Homo sapiens: one gene and its partner. The protein of the gene in region 1 purifies or fractionates together with the protein of each later gene. This does not show direct contact. Each region holds a gene or a part of one and is shown on either strand. Other genes may lie near its edges. The genes, in order: FTCD and GRB14.

The links.
Region 2: the proteins of FTCD (region 1) and GRB14 fractionate together in Homo sapiens (co-fractionation; one study listed by BioGRID). This does not show direct contact.

What each region holds. Positions count from the first base shown.
Region 1 is NC_000021.9:46,138,285-46,142,097, forward strand, and holds part of FTCD (formimidoyltransferase-cyclodeaminase), read right to left. Parts: intron 640-3,813; coding exon 596-639; intron 363-595; coding exon 224-362; intron 1-223.
Region 2 is NC_000002.12:164,509,895-164,513,707, reverse strand, and holds part of GRB14 (growth factor receptor-bound protein 14), read left to right. Parts: intron 1-3,813. UniProt on the Homo sapiens protein: Adapter protein which modulates coupling of cell surface receptor kinases with specific signaling pathways. Binds to, and suppresses signals from, the activated insulin receptor (INSR). Potent inhibitor of insulin-stimulated MAPK3 phosphorylation.

The DNA of each region.
Region 1 (3,813 bases):
ACACATTTGGGTCTCCGTCTGTGGTGCCGCCGTGAGCGAGATCTTAGAAGGCAGCGGACACCCCGGCCCTGTTGGAGGAGGCCAAAGCCCCGGGAACTGCCCGTGAAGTGAGGTCTCCCTACCTGGCTCAGCCCAGCCAACCACCGTGCTCTCCAGCAACTCAGCCCCAACAGCTGCTTCCTGCTTTGCGGCAGGAGGCCTGGGGTCCCCCGGGCCCCCCTACCTGGAGGTCTGACCGGCAGGCCAGGTTCCCACACCGGGCCAGTTCCTGCAGGGCCGGCCACAGCGAGGCCACCGTCTCCGCCAGCGTCAGCGGCACAGAGACTGCCCGCCTCAGACCCTCCTGTAGGGCCGCCGTGCGCCTGAAAGGAGCAAGAGGAGAGCCTGAGCACAGCGGCACACACAGGCAGGCAGTGGACACACTGCACCCCAACAGGGCTGAGCAGGCTGCAGAAGCGGGCGATGGGAAGTCATTCCCAAACACCCAGCACGCCCAGGCCAACCACGCCCCGTCACAGCACCCAGGTACTCGGGATCCTGGCCACCAACTCCCCAGACACAGAGGCCCACGGTGCGGCCGGCCCTCCAGGCTCACCTGTCCTTTTCCTCAGGTGTGTTCTTGGGGAGCCTCATTGCTTCCTGCCATAAAGAGACAGAACCACTGGGCGAGGGACCGTAGGGGGAGCAGCCATGCCCTCTGAGCTCCCACAAGGGGCTGTAGCAAGGAGCATGTCCCAGGCAGGGACCAGTTCTCTGGGAACCAAGCTTCTGTTGGGCCAGTGGTTTATAGCCCTTAGCATCAGGCTTGGTGGAGGAGCAGGGTAGGGGGGGTCGGGGCACACAGCAGATGGTCAGAGACCCGGGGATGTGAGAAGCAGGTAGTTCCCTCAGGGCCCTTATTCTCAGCTAAAGAGCCTGAGGGCCCAGGAGGTCCCCTGAGCCCTCAGAACCTGTAGGCAGGAGTGGCTCTGGGCCTGTGTCTCCAACACAAGCAGCTGCACCGCCCCCAAGCCTGGGCATAAGAGGCTCAGACTGTGCAGAAGGACCAAGAGCAAACCTCAAAGCCCCTCATGTCCCTGCCCCGGTCACAGGCACTGGCCTTTCCTAGGTGCTCATGTGTGTAGCTCACGGCGTCACCGTAAGGCACTCGGCTCCTCGGACCCACCCCGTGTGGAAGAGCACAGCTGGGACCACACACCAACCTTCCAAGGACCCACTGGGAGCCCTACTCACACGGACTGTGGCCAGAGCCCTGGCCAAGGGGTTCTCAGTGGGGAATATGCTCACTTCATCTTGGAAGATTCAGCCAACTCTCCACCAGAAAGTCATCATCAACAGCCCCTACCCTCGACCATGGATGAGAGCAAATGCTCCCTGGGCGCCAGCCAGATCTGGATCCTTTGACCATTCCGACAGCAGTGATCGAGGAACAGAAATGCCCAGTGTCTCCCTGACTGGCTGGGGCATCATCCAGACCAGGCCTCCTGGCTGCAGCCCCTCTCCCAGGCTGTCCTCTGCACAAGGGTCTGTAGCAGTTGCAGGCGGAGGCAGGACAGCCATCCTCAAGCTGCGACTCGCGCTACGAACACTCTCTCACACCCAGGCCTTGCGGTGTCCATGGTCTCCCTGGGCAGATCTTGGCCAAGGGTGTGCTTTAGGTGGCCTCATCTGCGTCCGGCCGAGGCCTGCCCGCCCGGTCCGTTTTGTTTTCTGTGATTTATCGTGAGGCTTGGTTGTGTTGGTGGTGGGGAAATACAGTTTTCTATTCCATCTGGAAATTACTTATGTATTTGGTGCAAGGTACAGATATCTCCTTATGTTTTTCAAAAGTCGACCTTTGCATTGCTCAGAGGGAGCATAAACCAATCCAGCACTCCCCGTCCACCTTCACATTGCTCACAGGGAGTGTACACCAACCCAGCACTCCCCGTCCACCTTCACGTGCCTCACAGGGTGCGTAAACCAATGCAGCACTCCCCGTCCACCTTCACATTGTTCACAGGGAATGTAAATCAACCCAGCCCTCCCCGTCCACCTTCGCATTGCTCAGAGGGAGTGTAAACCAACCCAGCACTCCCCCGTCCACCTTCACGTGGCTCACAGGGAGTGTAAACCAATCCAGCACTCCCCGTCCACCTTCGCGTGGCTCACAGGGAGTGTAAACCAACCCAGCACTCCTCGTCCACCTTCACATTGTTCGCAGGGAATGTAAATCAACCCAGCCCTCCCCGTCCACCTTCGCATTGCTCAGAGGGAGTGTAAACCAACCCAGCACTCCCCGTCCACCTTCACGTGGCTCACAGGGAGTGTAAACCAATCCAGCACTCCCCCGTCCACCTTCACGTGGCTCACAGGGAGTGTAAACCCACCCAGCACTCCCCGTCCACCTTCACGTGGCTCACAGGGAGTGTAAACCAATCCAGCACTCCCCGTCTGCCTTCACATTGCTCACAGGGAGCGTAAACCAACCCAGCACTCCCCGTCCACCTTCACGTGGCTCACAGGGAGCGTAAACCAATCCAGCACTCCCCGTCAGCCTTCACATTGCTCACAGGGAGCGTAAACCAATCCAGCACTCCCCGTCTGCCTTCACATTGCTCACAGGGAGCGTAAACCAATCCAGCACTCCCCGTCCACCTTCACGTGGCTCACAGGGAGCGTAAACCAATCCACTGATTTCGACCACTGATGCCTAGCACAGTCTCACTGTCCCCGCTCATGGTTCTCTAAACCACACGTCTTGTTTCCTTCCTGTCCCTTGATTACATTTTCATCTATGTACTTTTCCTACTTGTTTTTTAATTATTCACCTTATTTTAAATTTCTAAACATAAAATTGTTCCTATGTTTTATATACATATGTTTACATTAGAGACAGGGTGTCGTTCTGTTGCCCAGGCTAGAGTGCAGTGGTGCAATCACGACTCACTGCAGCCTCAAACTCCTGGCCTCAAGCTACCCCCACTTAAGCCTCCTGAGTAGCTGGGACCACAGGTACCTGCTACCACGCCTGGCTTTATTTTTTTTTTTTCTTTTTGGGTGGGTAAATACAGGGTCTTGGTGTGTGGTCTAGGCTGGTTTCAAACACCTGAGCTCAAGGGATTTGCCCACCTTGGTTTTCCAAAATGCTAGGATTACAGGTGTGAGCTATCATGCCTGGCCTATTTCTAATATTTATACTTAAATTCATGACTGTCTTCAAATGCCTGTCCGGGTCTAAAGTTCATCAACCCATTAAAGTATAGAAAAGATCATCTTGTTCTGGGGAGGCCATTTGAACTGTGATACAAGACCCAAAAAATATAAAGTCAGGATTGACACATTCCACGACATAAAGATTAAGAGTCATTGTCAGAAGCCCCACACGCAAAGTCCAAAGACGAACAACAAACGGGGAAAGCTGAGCCCAGAACAAGGCCTGCCTCCCCTATTAAAAAAAAAAAATACTAGAAGGCAGCGAAAGCCCCAAGAGAAACTAAGATAAAAGGAGTCAAAAAATATTCACCAGATAACTTCCTGGAAAAGAAGTAAAAACCACTGCTAAATGTACGGAACATGCTTAACCTGCCCGGTAATGAGAAGCGCATCCCAGAAAGCAGGGTTCTGCAAGCAGGTGTTGGGTGCCCTGGGCCCCCCCGGGGAGGGGGGTGCTTCCCCCAGTGGAAAACCCAAGGGGCCAGGCTGGGAGCGGGCGGGGCTGTGTGCGAGGGGAAGGAAAGGCGGAGCTCTGAGGCAGCAAGAGAGGCGAGCACTGGGCGGGCTGTGGCGAAGGCGGGGTGAACCCCCGAAGGGCCTATCTACTGTAAAAAGTAA
Region 2 (3,813 bases), on another chromosome or scaffold:
TAGGTGTGTTGAAATATAGTCTGCTAAATCTTGCTTGATTCTTAGCACACACATTCAATCTGCAAACTCATCTTTTTTTCATACTAGAAATGTACATCCATTATTTATTTGACTACTTCTTTTCTATTCTTGTTATGTGATCTTTTGCATTTGTCTTAGGATTTTCTGTCTTGGCTAGTTATGACTTCAGATGTCCCATGGCTTGTCTCTGCCTTTGTATTCACAGGGCCTTCTCCCTTTCTCTCTGTATGTCTCTTATAACAACACTTGTCATTGGATTTTGGGCCCACCTAGATAATCTCATCTCAAGATCCTTAACTTAATTATATCTTCAGTGACCCTTTTTCTGAATTAAGGTTACATTTATAATTTCCTGGTATTAGGGCATGAGCATATTTTTTGGGGGGCTACTATTCAATCCACTACAGAAAGCCATTGAAGTGTTTGAACAAGGGAGTGAAATTACCAAAAGAGTATCTTGAGATTAGTTTGGTCACAGGGAGCTTAAAAGATCAAGGAGACAGAGAGTGAAAGAGAGAAAAAGAGACTGAAGGGAAGAAGGCAAAGGAGGCAGAGAGGGAGGAGTGGGAAGGAAAGAGAAAGAGAGAGAAGTAGAGAGAGAGGGGCCACAAGATTAAATGGCAAAAGGCCAGATTTGTGTGGCTGATTGATATCAAAGAAGAGGAAGCAGTTAAAAATGTTCTTAAAGATAAAAGAAAATTAAGAAATAGAAAATAAAAATAAACAGGAATAGCATATTTACTAGAAGGTAACTCTCTTAGAAGACAAATAGTGATCTTAGTTCTGGATATGTTTTATTGAGGATGAAGCAAACAAATGGCAATGCTCAAAACAGCTAACGACGGAGACCAGATGTTTGGGTAATGGTCTTGATAGGAGATATGGAGCTGCAAAATAGTTATACCTGACTTTTTCCCATATTTTCCCCCAACTGCTCTTGTATAGCTTCCTTCTTTCCCTCATACACAGTTTTCTTTTGTTGCTGTTCTTGTGTGTGGGTCTTATGTGTGTGCATGTATTTCCTTGTGGTATAATGCTTCATGAACCACTACCTGGCTACCATCTATGTTTGCTCAAGGCCCTGGGTCTCTACAGTCAGCACGTAGTGAAGCCTGCCAGGCTTGTGTCCTTCCCTCAGGGCAGCAAGTTCCCCCAGTCCCTGGGTTGGTCTAGAGATGCCATCTGGGAGCCAGGGACTATAGCCAAAAACCCTGGAAATCGGCCAGGTGTGGTGGCTCACACCTGTAATCGCAGTACTTTGGGAGGCCAAGGTGGGTGGATTACCTGAGGTCAGGAGTTAGAGACCAGCCTGGCCAACATGGTGAATCCCCTTCTCTACTAAAAATACAAAAATTAGCCAGGCGTGGTGGCACAAGCCTGTAATACCAGCTACTCAGGAGGCTAAGGCAGGAGAATCACTTGAACCTAGGAGGCAGAGGTTGCAGTGAGCCGAGATCACGCCATTGCCCTCCAGCCTGGGCAACAAGAGTGAAACTCTGTCTCAAAAAACAAAAACAAACAAACAAACAAATAAACAAAAAACCTTGGAAATCTACCTGTTGTTCCATTCTACTGTGGCTTAGCAGGCACTCAAACCATGAGACGCAGGCCTTCCCACTCTTCCCCCCACTTTTCACTGGCAGAGGAGCCTCACCTCTGGCCACTATTACTACAAGTCCCCAGGGAGTACTGCTAGCAACTGCTGATGTTCATCTAAGGCCCAAGGGCTCTTCAGTCATCTTGTGGTGAATGCCACCAGGTCTGGGACTCGCCCTTCATGGTAGTGGACTCCCCTCTGACTCAGAGCATGTCCAGAAATGTCATCCAAGAGCTGAGGCCCAGAACTGGGGACCCCTCAGAACCATCCTGGTGCTCTATCCATCTGTGGCCGAGCTAGCATCGAACATACATTGAACATACAGGACAAAGTCTCCTTTACTTTTCCCTCTGTTTTTCTCAAGCAGAAGGAATCTCTCACCATAGTCACCACAACTGCAAATGTGCTAGGTTTCACCTGAAGCCAGCATGTCTTAGGATCTATCTTAGGATCTCATCCAAGTCCCATGGATTACTGCCTGGATATCACTGCTGGTTATTCAGGGCCCAAGATCTCTTAGTCAGCAGGTGATGGATCCTGCCAGGACTAGGTTTTTCCCTTCAAGGCAGTGGGTTCCCTTCTGGCTCAGGGTGTGTCTAACAATGTCATCTGGGAGCTACTTTCTGAATAGGGGCCTCACAACTCTGGTGCCCTGTCCTACTGTGGCTAAGCTGGTATCCAAGATGTAAGACAGAATCCTCTTTACTCTTCCCTCTCCTCTCCTCAAGTGGAAGGAAGGGATCTCTTTTTGGAGCCACGAGCTGTGCTGCCTGGGCTTGTGGGAAGGGTAGTGCAAGGACTCCCGTAGCCACCCCAGCTGTTGCTCACCAGCTTGTGTGCCCTCCAAGTGCATGGCTTCCAATCCCAGCTCATCACTAGGACTTGCTTAGGAGTTGCAGTCCTTGCAGCCTAGACTGCCTTTCATGTCTATTTAGGGCTCAGAGCAGTTTAGTCCGCAGTTGGGAGGCTCGCCAGAACTCGAGTTCCAACTGCTGGGATGGGCGGTTCCCCTCTGGTTAGGGCTGGTCTAAATCCTCCCTCCATGGGTAGGTGTCAGCTGAGTTCAGTTCGGTTTTGCTTTCCACTGTGACAGGGCAGCACTGAGTTCAATGCAAAGTCTCATAGTTACTGTGCTCTCCCTCTCCCAAGTACACAGATTCTTTCTCCTGCTAAGGAACAGGCGAGGGGAGGTACTGACAATGTAAGACTGTCTTTCCTACCTCCTTCAGTGCCTCTTTCAGTGATATGAAGTCCCCAGGGAGTACTGCAGGGACTGCTGATGTTCACTTAAGGCCTAAGGGCTCTCCAGTCATCTTGTGGTGAATGCACCAGGACTGAGACTCACCCTTTATGGTAGTGGGCTCCCTTCTAAAACCAGGTACTGTGAGTGCTCATCTGATTTTGGTTCTTAGAAAGGTGCTTTTTTTTGGTGTAAATGTTAAATTTGGTGTTCCTGCTTGGGGGAGGATAGGTAGAGCCTTCTGTTCAGACATCTTGCTCTGCCCCTCCTAATGTCACATATGGCATTTCTACCTGCAAAGAAACCATTTCCTATCCTTTTCTCTGAGGAGGTCTTGATTGGTTTTAGTTCTAAATTTAGTTAACTACTGCTGCAAATCTTAAAGATGTGGTCATGAATATATTTACAGAGAAATCTCTAAGTACGCTTCTCTCCACCTCCCCATGTCCGTACACATGGGGAAATGTACAAATGTACACATACTTAGATTTTGCTAACCATGCCCGTTCAACTTCATAGCCTTATAGTGCCATAAGCCTTAGCAGTGGTGGAACAAAAATCAAGAGAAAAAAACTCATCATACCTCTTATTGCCTTCCAGTGTTTCTCAAGCTACCTTTTACTCTTGTTTGAATAACTGAACTATATTGACTTCTACAGCATCAGTGGACAGGAATGGTTTTATTCCATCTTACTAGAAATCAAACATTTTTACCAGCAAATTAATTTTTATCCAGGAATAAGATTTTTAAAGCCAGGGCAATAAGCTTACCTTTCTCTTTCCTCCTACCTTTTTCCGAGGGTCCTATTCTGGGTCTTTTTAAAGCAATTTTCTTTCCTGTCTTATTCTCCAATGGTGTTAGAAACTACAGTCATTCATTCGATTAAAATGCTTAAGAACAGTGAATACAGAGAAACTCTTGTTCTGCCAGTTATCAGAGGTGGAATAACACCGG